Homo sapiens: one gene and its partners. The protein of the gene in region 4 purifies or fractionates together with the protein of the main gene of each other region. This does not show direct contact. Each region holds a gene or a part of one and is shown on either strand. Other genes may lie near its edges.

Region 1 (3,500 bases), on a different chromosome or scaffold from region 4:
TGTCTGGGCTAGTTGCTTTACCGAATGTCCCTTTGGATGTGGATTGCCTGCTTGTTTCCTCATGATCAGATTCTGGTTGTAACTCTTTGTAGCAGGAATACTTCATAGCTATGTTGGGTCCTTCTCAGTGTGTCACATCAGGAAGATGTGGTCTGTTTGTCACATTATTGGAGATGTTAACTTTGACATTTGGTTAAAGTGAAGTTTACCAGATTTCTCCATTGTAGAGGCACCATTTTACCTTTGTAAGTAATAAATGATGTGTTAAGTGATGTTTTGAGGTTGAGTGAATATCCTGTTCTCCAGCCATTGTTCATTCAGTGGTTTTAGTATCCTATGGTGATTCTTCCCAGAATCCATTATCACTAAAATATTTTATTTTATTTTTTGAGACAGGGTCTCACTGTGTCACCCAGGCTGGAGTACAGGGGTGCTATCACAGCTAACTCCAGCCTCGACCTCTGAGGCTCAAGCAATTCTGCCACCTCAGCCTTCTGAGTAGCCAGGACTACAGGTGCATGCCACCATGCTTGGCTAATTTTTTTTTAGTTTTTGTAGAAACAGGGTTTCCCTATGTTGCCCAGACTGGTCTTAAACTCCTGGGCTCAAGTGATCCTCCCTCCTTGGCCTACCGAAGTGTTGGGATTACAGGCATGAACCACCACATCCAGCCACTAAAATATTTTCAAATGGTAATTTTCTTCCCCCACCCTTGTCCCTTTCTTCTCCCTCCCTCCCTTCCTTCCATCCTTCCTCTCTCCCCTCCCCTCCCTCCCTCCCCTCCCCTCCCTTTCCCTCCCCTCCCCCTCCCTTCCTGTCCCTTCCCTTCCCTTCCCTTCCCTTCCCTTCTTTCCTTCTTTGTTTCATTGCCTTTTCTCTTTTCTTTTGAGACACAGTCTCACTCTGTTGCCCAGGCTAGAGTATAGTGACACAATTATGGCTCACTGCAGCCTTGATCTCCCAGACTCAAGCGATCCTCCCACCTCAGTTTCCAAATAGCTGGGACTACAGGGACATGCCTTCACGTCCACCTAATTTTTTTGTATTTTTTATAGAGACGGGGTTTTGCCATGTTGCCCAGGCTGGTCTTGAACTCCTGGGCTCAAGCAATCCTCCCAAGTCAGTTTCCCAAAGTGTCGGGATTATAGGCATGAGCCACCCAGCAATTTTCTCTTCTGTTTCTCTCTATATATATATTTATTAGTTTACATTGTTCAGTAATGGATAGCTTTTGCACACACATCCTCCCTTTTTTTCTTTTATTTTAGAAGGTTATGTGGACTCATGGATTCTTTTTTAAATATGGCATTCCTGTCATCCATTTTGATGCTCGGCAACCCCACATTTGACAAGTGGGAACACCTTCAAGCTTCAGAGTCCTTTTGCTCTGTTTGTTCCTGTTTGATTTTAAACACTTCCTTACTTTCTGGCACAGAAAGATGTTCTGGACTCATCTTGTAGTGTTCCTGCCTCAGCCTTCGAATCATTAGGTTCCCTGGTTTCTTTTAGTGAGAGATGGTATTTAGAAATCAAGTTCTGGGTGCAAAGTGTGCCCACAGGTACCAGAGTCATTGCTTCTCAGCCTTGTCAGTTTTCAAAGTTAAGAAATAGAGTTTTTACAAAGTCAGGAGTTCACCCTGATACTTCTAACACTAATAATCTTGCTGCTTAGTTCTTCTGCCTCTTCTGCTCTTCCATATTTGCATCTCCTTACTCCCACAGTGAGAACTCTGTTCTTAGTAGCATCAGTATATTTTCCTAATCTACATTAAACCCCAAATCATTTTACAGTTGCTATACCAATCTACTACCAACTACAAACTTACTAAATACAGTTAAAGATTTCTTTACAGTTCCTTTTATTTTTCATTACAGTCTCCAACTTAGCAATGGTTCGACTTAAGATTTTTCAACTCTACAATGAGTTTTTCAAGATATAACTCCATAATAAGAAATATCTGTATATCCCAGTGAATATGCAATACTATATTCAAAAGTTACTTGGATTCTGGCCGGGTGCAGTGACTCATGACTGTAATCCCAGCACTTTGGGAGGCCAAGGCGGGCGGATCACAAGGTCAGGAGATTGAGACCATCCTGGCTAACGCAGTGAAACCCTGTCTCTACTAAAACAAAAAATTAGCTGGGCATGGTGGCACACGCCTGTAATTCCAGCTACCTAGGAGGCTGAGGCAGGAGAATGGCCTGAACCAGGAGGCAGAGACTGCAGTGAGCCAAGATTACAACACTGCACTCCAGCCTGGGTGACGGAGTGAGACTCTGTCTCAAAAAAAAAAAACAAAAAAACAAAACAAAACAAAAAAAAGTTATTTGGATTCTTTTTTTTTTTTCTAACTACCCTTCTTAAACAAGGTAACACTCTATGTATTTTTTTGTATCTCATTTTTGTCACTTAACCATACATCTGGAAAATCATTCCCTATCACTTCATAGAGATCCACCTCATTCTTTTTCACAGCTGTACAGTCCCTCATAGGGTGGCTATATGGTAGTTCATTCAGCTACCCTCTGCTGGTTAGTATTACATAGTGTGGTCAGGGAGGGTCTCTTTAATAGGGTGACAATTGATCATACACTTAAGGAAGTGAGAGATAGGCCACAAGGCTATCTGGGGGAGTGATATTCCAGGTCTACTACTCAGGACCCTGAGATAGGCTTCAAGCGTTTAAGAAACTTCAAGGATACCATTGTGGTGGAGAGTGGTAGAAAATGAAGTTATAAAAGTAGTCAGGGTTGGATCCTGTAGATAAAGTTTTTAGGGCCTTTTAAATATTTTGGCCTTTTTGCTTTCAGTGACTGGAAAGTTTTGAAGGATTTTGAACAGGAGTGAAATTATGATGACTTGGATGTTTAAAAGAATTATTCTGGCTGCTGGATGAATAGTCTGTAGAGGAGAGAAAAGGAAGAGCAGGGAGGTTGGTTAGGCTGCAGGGGCAATGCAGGAAAGGAATCACTGGGGGTGGGAGATATCTGGATGTGTTTTGAAGGTGGAGCTGGCAGGATTTGGTGTGGGCTTGCATTAGTGGAATGACATGTGGATAGGGCCTGGATAGTGCTGGGCAAGTAGCAAGAACTCAAAAGTATGAACTTGGCTGAGAGTGGTGGTGCATGCCTGTAATCCTAGCACTGAGAGGCTGAGGTGGGCAGATCTTTTGAGCCCAGGAGTTCGAGACCATCCTAAGCAACATGCTGAAACCCCATGATATGGTTTGGCTCTGTGTTCCCACCCAAATCTTACGTTGAATTGTAATAATCCCCATATGTCAAGGGCAGGGCTAGGTGGAGATAATTGAATCATAAGGGCAGTTTCCCCCATACTGTTCTCAGATAGTGAATAAGTCTCACAATATTTGATGATTTTATAAATGGGGATTCCCCTGCACAAGCTCTCTCTTGCCTACTGCCATGTAAGATGTGCCTTACTTCTCCTTTGCATTCTGCCATGATTGTGGGGCCTCCCTGGCCAGGTGGAACTGTGA
Region 2 (3,500 bases), on a different chromosome or scaffold from region 4:
CAGGTAGCACATCAGAAAGAACCTGCGGCACAGAGGGCGGTTGGCGAAGAGCAGCCTCCTCGGCAGCTGGGGACCTGATGTCAGGCTGGGCCTGGCCCAGAAACGGGGCGTGGCCCGGCCCTGCCCTGCATGGCTCAGCAAGGTCTTCTCAACCTCATTGCTGCCACCTCCATGGCCTGAGGCAATGAGACTACTGTGGAGGAGTCCTCGGAGCCAGATCGCAGAGGATGGGCAAGGGTTTGCTGTTGGAGGAGGTAGGAAGGGGAGTAACAGGGCAGAGCTGAAGAGGGTGGTGCAGGGGCAGCAGGAAGAGCTCAGTGCCTGGAGACTCTAGGCCACATTCAGGCCTCTGGCCTGAGTGACCAGCTGGATGAGAGGCTGCCATGCATGAAGGGGAGGATGGAAGATAAGCTGGACCATTTGAATGCAACCAGTCAGAGATACTTAAGAGTCACTGCGGTGGGCGTGGGAGTCCCACGCATGGGCAGGGCCAGCTGCATGAGCCCTCCAGGAAGGCACCCGAGGACGGGTGCGCAGGAAGGCAGGAGGACCCACACAGGGCATGCCAGGGGGCAGGGGCTCCCAGCAGGAGGCCCGAGATAAAGGCTGAGATGTAGCCTCTGATTTGGGCACAAGGGGGGTCACCACCCAAGATGGCTGTGGCAAAACAGTTTCAGGTGTGCTCTTGGGTGAGAGGAAGGGGTGTGGGGGGGTGGACAAGAGGGTGCTGGCTCCAGCAGGCCTGGCTGTAGCTGGGATGGAGCCTGCTCAGGGGTACAGGGCCCCTGTCAAGTCTGCAGGCTGAGTGGGCAGGGAAGAGGAGGCCTTTCATAACCGCACAAGCAAGAAGGAGCGTCAGCCACGGAGCAGGGTGGGCGAGGACCCCAGCCTGGACAGAGTCAACCAAACAAGCGCTGCCTCGGGGTCCCTGGGAGTCACCACATGCTGGCCACTCCCTGCAAGGCACTGGCACGCAGATTTGCCTGGCTGATTCCAGAATGTTAAAAGCAAATGACTTTGAAAATGGATGGGTTGGGCATGGTGGCTCACGCCTGTAATCCCAGCACTTTGGGAGGCCGAGCCAGGTGGATCATCTGACGTCAGGAGTTCGACACCAGCCTGGCCAAGATGGTAAAACGCCATCTCTACTAAAAATACAAAAAATTAGCTGGGCGTGGTGGTGCATTTCTGTAATCCCAGCTACTCAGGAGGCTGAGGCAGGAGAATTGCTTGAACCCAGGAGGCGGAGATTGCAGTGAGCCAAGATCATGCCATTGCACTCCAGCCTGGGTGAGAGAGTGAGACTCTGTCTCAAAAAAAAAAAACAAAAACCAAAAAACAAACTAACAGATGGAAGGGGCAGCAGTGGCTTCATGGAGGCATGAGGGACGCGGTGGTTGCCCTGTCCAGTGGGAAGGTCTGCCGGCCACCTGCTCTGGGGGCCTCAGGGAGGTGTGGACATATTGGTCACCTTATAGCTTTGGCATAGGTGCCAGGCTTGCTCCTAAATGCAGGGGTGGGCTGAGCCCTGTCAGGCCACATCTCCCCATGCAGCCTGCCACATCTCCCAGCTGGACCTCCAACACCAGACGCAGCCACGGGGAGGTGCTGGGGTTCAGGAAGCCTTTCCCCATCCCCCTGCCCTGCCCGGCCCCAGCTCACATGGATAAGATGGGGGCCACCATGTCGAGGGAGGCGATGAGGATGCCCAGCTCGGCGATGAGTGCCGTCAGGAGGAGTGCCCATGTGGGTTCACCATTCACCTTCCCGTGGCCAAACACCTGTGTGCACCAGGAAGGAAGCTGGGTCCTGTCACCCCCATTCCACACCTTGGGCCCCAGACCCCAGCCTGGCCTCCCTCACCCCCAGGGCCCGCCTTGGGGGCTCAGGCCGCCCCTGTGTCTATCCCTATGGGTGTCACCAGTCTCCCTGATTCCACCTCACCAGGCCTCTCTCCTTTGGATGAGCCCTAAACAGGCCATGAAGATTCTGGGTCCAGGCAGCTCCAGGCCCAGGTGAGTGCCAGGCCCAGGGCACTTCTCAGTAGCTCCTCATGGATGGCCGCCTGGCCCCGGGGGCCAATAAGGGCAGGACGTGCTGCATCTGTGTTCCCTATCTCTCTCCCCAGCCGGGCGAGGGCCTGGGAGCAGCCAGGCCATGGGGGAGTGCAGAGGGGCTCACCCGGAGGAAGGGGATGATGTTGTCCTTGGCAATGGCCTGCAATAGGCGTGGTGCCCCTGTGAGGCTCTGGAGGCCAGCGCCACACGTTGAAAAGAAGGAGCCGATGACGATGACCCAGGGTGAAGGCCAGGCCAGTGTGCCCACCACCAAGTTCCTGCTGACACCATCGCCATACCTGCAGGGGCCACCAGAGTGAGGGATGTCAGGGGTCCGGAAGGATGGCACAGACCACCAAAGGCAGCCAGCAGGCTTAGGACCACCCACGGGGTTGGGAGCTGGTGTGAGGGCAGGCCAAAGCCCAGCCGCTGCTAAAGAGGGGGGCCCAGCTCACTCACTTGTCCCGGAGAACCACACCCTCAATGCAGGCACCAAAGAGAACCACACTGCTGAAGTCTGCGGCGGCGTCAAGGAAAACTCGGCCTCTGCCACCCCACTGTCCCTGAATAGTACCACGTGCCCCCACCCCAGCCAGACTACCAGGACACCTACAGCTGGGAGTCTCGTGGTGTGTATGTGCATGTGTGCATGAGAAGGGGAGCTATATATGAGTGTGTGGGGTGTCTGTGCATGTGACCTGGCAACGTACACAGGCCAAGCGCTTCCCGTCCTCTGCCCCACCTGCCCCAGGCCTGGGAAAGGATACACACGAGGGAAGTTGTAATGATGGCCAGAATGGTCCCCACAGGGATAGACTTCTGGGCGTCACGAAGGTCCCCAGAGCGGTTTGAGCCAGCCATGATGCCTCCAAAAACAGATGAGACTCCCTCAGGGGCTCCCCGGGATTGGGGACAGGGCTGGGTGGGTAGGCAGGCAGGGCTCACCTGTTACAGAAGGGAAGAAGATGCCGACCAGCACGGTGAAGGATGTGGCGATGTCAGCGACCACGTACAGAGGCAGGCTCTCCTTCAGGCTCGGGGCATCTGCGGAGGGCAGCCCATGCTTCTCCACGATGTCACCCTTCTCCAGGTAGGCGCTCCACAGGTTTTCTGCAGGGGTAGCTGTGTCACCACCACAGCTGCCCCCCACTACCCCAGGTAGTTTGGGGCAGCCTAGCCAGAGGCGCAGATGCAGGGCAACTTTGGGGACTCAGGGAACAGCTTCAGCCCAATGACTGCAGCGTCAGCCACAGGGCTACCCTGACCACAGAGAAGGAGCTGCCCAGCTAGAAGTCGACAGACAAAGGTGGCTGAACCACCGTCACCCAGAGCCCGCCACTGCCCGCCTTCCACAGAGGCCTTTATGGATCCTGTGGGAACATCCCCAGGCAGTGTCAGGGGCTGGTGGCTGGGGAAGACAGGCTGCTGCAGGCCTTGGACGCT
Region 3 (3,500 bases), on a different chromosome or scaffold from region 4:
TCTAAAGTTCTTCATGGTTTCCCCTGTGTATAGATGAGTATGTAAGTTTCTTAGTGTGACACATGAACCCCTCCCCTTCATGATCTGGCCTATGTCTGCCTCTGTAGCTACTCTCTGGTCCTTTACCTCTTACATAAGCTACCCAAGCAGGTTTTACTATGATGCTTTTATGCTGTTGCGCATACTTTTTTTGTGTGTGTGCCTGTATTGACTTTTTACCTCACAGCCCAATTAATTTATCCTAATTCTTCAATATTTTGCTAAAATATTCCCTCTATTAAGTGCTTACGGACTGTGTGCCAGCCAGCTTGCTTACTTTTCTCAGGTTTATCAAATACATTGTATGTACCTCTCCTGTGATGTGTATCATACCATATTGTTGTTACTTGTTGATGTCTGTCACCTTCACTGCCTTAGGAACAGAAACCATATCTTATTCATTACCCTAGCATCTGGCTTTGTGCCTGGTACATGCTAAGTGTGCAGTCAATGATTATCAAATAAATTAATAAATGACTCCAAAAACTAGCTTTGAATACTAGATAAATGGTGATCCTGTAAACTGAGATAGGAAAAGTAGGAGGACAAGGACTTTTGGGGCAAATATTTATTTAGTTTAGGTCTTGTTGAGTTTTAGCTCTTTTACAACATCAAGGAAGACATGTACCATTTATTTCTTATACATTTGTTATTTATTCATACAATATAATTAACCCAACAAGATTTTTTTTAGATATGGACAAGATTATTCTAAAATTTACATGAAAAGGCAATGAAAAAGAAGAATAAGGTGTGAAAGATCAATCTACTCAATTTCAAGACTTATTATGTAGTTACAGTAATCAAGACTGTGTGGTATGGGCATAGATAAAGACACAGATCCGTGGAACAGAACAGAGAACTCTGAAATAGATCCACATAAATATACCTAGTTTTTGTCAAAAGCATGAAAACAGTTCAACGGAGGTAGATAACTTTTTCAACAGTTGGTACTGGAGCAATTAGACATCCATACACTGTCCCATTCCCAACCCCCCAATAAAGGAACCTCAACCTATGTCTCATACCCTGTGCATGCACAAATTAAAATGGATCACAGACTGAAATATAAAAATATTAAACTATAAAATTTTAGGAAAAATAGAAGAAAATTTTGGGGAGGTAGGGTTAGGCATATGTTTCTTTGACTTGCCACCAAAAGAATACTCCTTAAAGGCAAAATTGATAAATTAAACTTCATCAAAATTAAGTATTTTTGCTCTGTTATAGACCCTGTTAAAAAGATGAAAAGATAAACTAGAGAGGGGAGAAAATATTTGCAGACAACACAACTGACAAATAACTAGTATCTGTAATATATAAAGAACTCTTAAAAGTCAACAGTATGAAAGCAGTCCAGCTAGAAAACGGACAAAAGACATAGTCATTTCACTGAAGAGGATTACACATATAGCAAATGAGCACATAAAAAATGTTCAGCATCATTACCCATTAGGGAGATGCAGATTAAAGCAACAAGATACTACCGTACATCTATCAGAATAGCTAAAATAAGAAATAGTGACAACACCAAATGCTGGCAACGAGGTCAAGAAACTGGATCACTCATACATTGTTGGTAGAAATGTACAATGGTACAGCCACTCTGGAAAACAATTTGGCAGTTTCTTTAAAAAACAAATATGTGACTACTGTATGACCCAACTATTGTACTCTGACATTTAGCCCAAAGAAATAAAGGCTATTCATTTTCAAAAACCTGTACATGCATGTTTGTAGCAGCTTTATTCATAGTCACCAAAACATAGAAACAAGCCAGATGTTCTTCAGTGGGTGAATGGTTAAACAAACTGTGGCATATCTGTTATCATAGACTACTCTGATAAAAAGGAAGGAACTATTGACACATGTAACACCCTGGATGAATCTCCAGAGAATTGTGCTGAGAACAAAGAGTTAATCCCCATATCATATCATTTATATAACATTCTTGAACTGGCAAAATTATTGAAGTAGAAAACAGACTATGGGTTGCTAGGGGTTAAGGAGGGATGGCCATAAAACGGCAACATGAGAGATACCTGTGGTGATGGAATATTCTGTATCTTGACTGTATCAATGTCCTTATCTTGATTGTGATATTGTACTATAGTTTTGCGAGATGTTCCCATTAATGGAAACTGGGTAAAAGATATACAGGATTTTTTTCTGTATTATTTATTGTAACTACATGTGGAACCACAATTATCTCAAAATAAAAATTTAATTAAAAAAATTGAACATCTACTGTGACACATTTTTTTTTTTTGAGGCAGATCTTGCTCAGTTGCCCAGGCTGGAGTGCAGTGAGTGGTGTGATCTCAGCTCACTGCAACCTCTGCCTCCTGGGCTCAAGTGATTCTTCTGCCTCGGCCTCCTGAGTAGCTGGGATTACAGGCACTCACCACTATGCCCGGCTAATTTTTGTATTTTTAGTAGAGACGGGGTTTCACCATGTTGGCCATGCTGGTCTTGAACTCCTGACCTCAGGTGATCTGCCCTCCTGGGCCTCTTAAAGTGCCGAGATTACAGCTGTGAGCCACTGCGCCTGGTCTAATGTGACATATTTTGCTAACCATTGAGTATACAGTGTTGAGCAAAAATTGAGTGTCAGACCTCATGACACGTTCTACAATGGCAGACAGATATTAAATAATCACAGAAATAAATTTAATATTCAACTGTGGTAAGTGCTGTAAAAGAGAGCTATAAGAACTAATAATGAGAAAATTTGATCCAGATAGTAAGTGGGTCAGCGAAGCTTTGCTTACTAACTGCATGACTTTGGGCGAGTTATTTACATGCTTTGTGCCTCAGTTCCTCATTTTTAGTGGGGACAATAATAGCACCTATTCTTTAAGGTTGTCATATATTTAATATGAATATTAAATGAATGAATTTGTAAAGGGCTTAAGATATTGCCTAGCATATAGTAAGCTCTGGTTAAGAGTTTGTTAAATAAAGGGATACTTGATGTAAGACCTTGTAAGAAAAATGAGTAGGAGAGTTAATTCTTTTTTATTTTTACAATTTCAACTTTTATTTTAGATGTGCAGGTTTATTCCATGGGTATACAGCATGATGCTGCGGTTTGGGGTACAGTTGTACCCATTACCCAGGAAGTGGGTATAGTGCTCAACAGTTTTTCAGCCCTTGCTTCCTTCCCTACATTGCCCGCGCTGGTAGTCCTCAGTGACTATTGTTGCCATCTGTACATCTGTGAGTACCTGATGTTAAAGCTCCCACTTAAAATGAGAACATGCTGTATTTGGTTTTCTGTTACTGTGTTAATTCACTTAGGATAATGGTCTCCAGCAGCATCCCCATTGCTGCAAAGGACTTGATTTTATTCTTTTTATGGCTGTGTAGTGTTCCATGGTGTATATGTACCATATTTTCTTTTCTTTCCTTTTTTTATTTTTATTTTTTTTTGAGACAGAGTCTTGTTCTGTCGCCCAGGC
Region 4 (4,170 bases):
GGGACAGGGTCTTCCAACCTTTCCCGAGCTGGTCTCAAGCTCCTGGGCTGAAGTGATCCTCCTGCCTCAGCCTCTCAAAGTGCTGGTATTATAGGCATAAGCCACCACGCCCTGCCCATTTTTCTAAGTTGGATTATTTTACACTCCAGTCTGCTGTGAATGAGAGTTCCAGTTGTTGCGTATCGCAATCAATTTGTGATTGCCTACAAATGATGTGCCGTGATGAAATTGTCCCTGGTGTCCGAGAGGATCGCAAAGAATTTCCCTTCCTTTCTCTCCTTTCTGCTCCCCTTGTACTGTCTACTCCTTAAACTGGTACTTGATCCAGGAACATAATGGGGATGGACAGTGCAGATGGCACACATGGCCTCAGTCTATTGGAGCATCTCAAAGGAATTAGTCTGCAAATTCTAGTGCATCTAGGTGGAGCACAGGAAGGAAGAGAGGTGCAGACTCACGTATGGCCCTGGGGCACCTGCCATCCTCTCGCACCCGTACAGCCCTTACCTGCCAGCACTTACCCTACCCAGCTTGAGTTCTGGGCCTTCTCACCAGCACATCGCTGGGACCTGGTCGACTTCAGGTAAGTTTATTTCATGGCTCCCTCCCCCACGACCTGCACATGCCATATGTTCCTTCCCAGCCCCATGTCACTTGAAATGTTCTATCATGTCCAAGACTTCTCTCCTCATCCTAAAGTGCAGAAAATAAGGATGGAGAAGAGAAGGAGAAGAGAATCAAGAGAGATTCATTGAGAGGGAGGATCAGAAGCTCCTGGGCACCCCATACTGTAGAATAAAAATATTCATTATGGTGTTTTTCTTGCAAAATATTCCCCTCTACATAATTATGTTTTTACATGAATAATATAAATTTAAACAGGAGAAATACTTTTTGAAGAGTCTGAGAATCTTCATAAAGTTCAGGCGGCCACGAATTAGCTGTGTGACCTGGGGCATGCCCCTTAGACTCTGAGCCTCAGCTTCTCTGTATGTAAAATGGGTTGAAGCCGCCCTTCCCCACAAGCACCCTGTGCACAGGCAATGCCCAGCCCCATTATTTTCTGGACTCCGTGGCCAAGCATGCTTAGGACACACAGCCACATACTTCTGGGCAGTGTCATCTGGCAACTTGCTGTCATGTCAGTGTGGTCAAGCATTGTAGACCTCTATGAACCAAATATGCTTCAGGCTTGGGTTGAGCACAGGAGAGGGAGGAGGGAAAGGTCACTGGGGCTGGGAGTGCCTACTTCCCTCTGTGAGTGTCACCCCAGTCCACCCAGTACCATACCTTTCTCTCTCTGGACCCACTTCCTTTTGCTGCCGGCTCCTCCCCATTGAATAACAGCCAAGTTGCTTTGGTTTCTATTTCTTTGTTAAGTCGTTCCCTCTACAAAGGACTTCCTAGTGGGTGTGAAAGGCAGCGGTGGCCACAGAGGCGGCGGAGAGATGGCCTTCAGCGGTTCCCAGGCTCCCTACCTGAGTCCAGTGAGTTCCAGGGCTATGGGCACAGGGCTGCCTCAGCCAGAGGGACACAGCTCTGGGGCTCTGAGGAAGCAACTCCTGGGTGGCAGGGGATGGGGGTGGGGGCATCCCAAAGAGAACACAAGCAGGGCAGAAATATCAGAGGAGGTCATCCTGGCACACCTGTGCCGTGCTGAGCTCACTCATGCCTGGAGGGATGCTCCTTCCCACGAGTCATGGCTTTGACAGTGTTGACTGAGCTGTCCTGTCCTGTCCTGTCCTGTGTGCTCAGGGGAAGACATGTAGAGCGGGGTGGTTCATGTAAAGAGGAAGCAAGCACGCTTCTGGGACAGTAAGGACGCTACCCGGCATGGTAGTTAAGGGTGCTTACTGTGAAGGTGGCCTCCCTGGGTCCAGCTATTTACTGGCTGGTGGTCTCTGGGCCTCAGTTTCCATATCTGTGAAGTGGGAATAATACTTGAGCCCCCCACTCCCAGGGTTGGGATATGGATTAAGGAAGTAGTGTATCTAGTGTGTTTGAACAGTGCCTGACACACTGTAGGTGCTTTGGGAGTGTTTCATGTTATTGGGTGTCTGAGGGCAGCAGGGAAGACCTCCCGAGGAGGTGTCTGTGCTCTGAAGGTTGGGCATGGGCATGTTCAGGGCATCTGTGGAGGGGCAGTCTCAGAGGTGAGAGGGGGGTGAGGACTGTCCCTGCAGCGTGGGGTCAGAGGGCGGCAGGTGCCTTGCTGAAACCCTGTGAGGTTTATGAGTCCCCTTCATACACGGAAAATCTGAGGCTCAGGGAGGCAGAGGCCAGTTGCCAAATGCCTCCAGATGGGAGTGGCAGCCCCAGGAGCCCAGGAGACTTCAGGGGTCACTGTGTCCTGGGCCGGCTCCTGTCATAGGATCTCACCCCGCCTTGGCAAAGAGCTTCCCGAGGGGCTGGAGAGGGTGGGCTGATGGGTCCTTCCTGGGTGGGGAGGCAGGGTGGGGAGGGTGGGCAGAGGCAGGGTACTGAGGGAGGGAAGCTGCCATGGCCCACCTCAGCAGAGGCCAGGGTCGGGCTTGAGTGCCCCCTGGTGACACTGAGTCCAGAATGAGGCTGCCTACGTTCTGGTCTGCAGAGCTCGGCTCTGCTTTCTAAACTCCAGAGAGAAAGAATGGGGAAAGGAGGCCTGTTTCCTCCTGGCTGTCACCAATGACACCTCAGCCACCCTGTGGAGGCCCCTGAGGTAGGACCTGCACAGAGGGGGCTGGGGGAAGCTGGAACAGGCCGCTGGTGGGGGCCTTAGGGTCAGCAGGTGCTGCCTTGGGCATGTCACCCTGTCTCTGGTTTTCTGTCAAAGAGGGGATCCCAGAGCTTCTTCCAGGTTCTGACATATTATTATTCTGGTGACTGGTTTTTACTTTCTAATCCTTGGATTCAGAAGGAAAATTATCCTACGGACATCAGAGAGTTAAAACAGGGCCTTGGAGTCCAGACAAGAAAGATGATCAGTGCAGCCCCTATGGGTGTCCAGAGTACCCCTCTACCCCACGGGGGCTCCCCTGGGTTGGGACAATTAAGCCTCACTTGGTGACCCATCTGGCAGTCGGAGCCACGCTTCCTCCACATGCCGACAGTGGGGGAAGGTCACGCGGTTCGCTGTCCTGCTGAGGAGGGCTGAGTGCCATGAGGGCCTGGCTTGGAAACCTCACTCCCACTTCTTGTCTGGCCTCATCTAGCCCAGCCTCTTTGGAGGGCCTGGGGGAAGCTGGAACCACGTGCTGTGTGGTCCAGGAAGCACTGGGAGAGCCAGGAATAAGGATGTTCTCAGCTTACTCATGAGAGGAAGCCTGTGTGGTGGTTAGAAGCGTGGGTGCTGGGGTTCAAATCCCAGCTCTGTTGCTGACCAGTTGTGTAACTTTGAGCAAGTGACTGAACTTTTCTGTGCCTCAGTTTCCTCATCTGTAAAAGTGGCCGGGGTTGCTGTGAGGATAAATGTTCCTAGTCATGCCCAGAGCCCTCATGGACACACATGGATCCAAATGCCACAGCAGCCTTAGCTGGTCAACCTCAAAACAACACATTTGTTCTTACAGTGTTGGAGGTCAGAAGTCTAAAATCAAAGTGTCATGGAAGGTGGCCAGCAGGACCATGGAGCCTCTGAGGCAGCGGGGCACCTTGGCTAAGAGCCACGTACTGGCCTCCTGCTGGCACGCAGTCTTGGCCAGCCAGGCTGAGCTCCCCACTTCGGGGTCGGGCCTGGGTGTCCTCTGGTGATGCTGAGTCCAAAACAAGGCTGCCCACATTTTGGTTCACAGGGCTCAGCTCTGCTTTCTAGACTTCCAGATAAGAAGAGGAGGAAAAGTCCCCGGTCTCTGGGCACTATCAGGAACAGAGAGCAAGTCATGACTCAGCAGAGGGATCGATTTGTTCAATGCAAAGAGCTGCACTGTCATGTCTGACATGAGCCAGGGGCTCAGCACACGGAATCGCACCCAGTCCTCTCAGAACGCTGCCAGCCAGGGGCTCAGCACACAGCGTTGCACCCAGTCCTCTCCAGAACACTGTCGGGTGGTGTTACTGTCCTGCCATTCAGAGGAGGGAACTGGGGCACAGGCAGGTCAAGTGACTTGGCCAGTGTCAGAATTGCTAGTGTACAGAGCTGGGAGGCAAGCCCAGTCCCGTGGGACCATAAATCCAGTGTGAAAATCCATCCTC

What was found. Proteins that work in one complex are often made in the same cells at the same time.
Region 1: the proteins of LGALS9 (region 4) and CD58 purify together in Homo sapiens (affinity purification with mass spectrometry; 4 studies listed by BioGRID and IntAct, with this or other methods). This does not show direct contact.
Region 2: the proteins of LGALS9 (region 4) and SLC12A4 purify together in Homo sapiens (affinity purification with mass spectrometry; 4 studies listed by BioGRID and IntAct, with this or other methods). This does not show direct contact.
Region 3: the proteins of LGALS9 (region 4) and CLCN3 purify together in Homo sapiens (affinity purification with mass spectrometry; 4 studies listed by BioGRID and IntAct, with this or other methods). This does not show direct contact.

The regions. Positions count from the first base shown.
Region 1 is NC_000001.11:116,564,527-116,568,026, reverse strand, and holds part of CD58 (lymphocyte function-associated antigen 3), read left to right. Parts: intron 1-3,500. UniProt on the Homo sapiens protein: Ligand of the T-lymphocyte CD2 glycoprotein.
Region 2 is NC_000016.10:67,948,138-67,951,637, forward strand, and holds part of SLC12A4 (solute carrier family 12 member 4), read right to left. Parts: intron 3,168-3,500; coding exon 3,003-3,167; intron 2,924-3,002; coding exon 2,825-2,923; intron 2,575-2,824; coding exon 2,517-2,574; intron 2,357-2,516; coding exon 2,182-2,356; intron 1,782-2,181; coding exon 1,663-1,781; intron 23-1,662; coding exon 1-22. UniProt on the Homo sapiens protein: Mediates electroneutral potassium-chloride cotransport when activated by cell swelling. May contribute to cell volume homeostasis in single cells. May be involved in the regulation of basolateral Cl(-) exit in NaCl absorbing epithelia.
Region 3 is NC_000004.12:169,627,078-169,630,577, forward strand, and holds part of CLCN3 (H(+)/Cl(-) exchange transporter 3), read left to right. Parts: intron 1-3,500.
Region 4 is NC_000017.11:27,629,818-27,633,987, forward strand, and holds the start of LGALS9 (galectin-9), read left to right. Parts: upstream 1-1,370; 5' UTR 1,371-1,448; coding exon 1,449-1,487; intron 1,488-4,170. UniProt on the Homo sapiens protein: Binds galactosides. Has high affinity for the Forssman pentasaccharide. Ligand for HAVCR2/TIM3. Binding to HAVCR2 induces T-helper type 1 lymphocyte (Th1) death.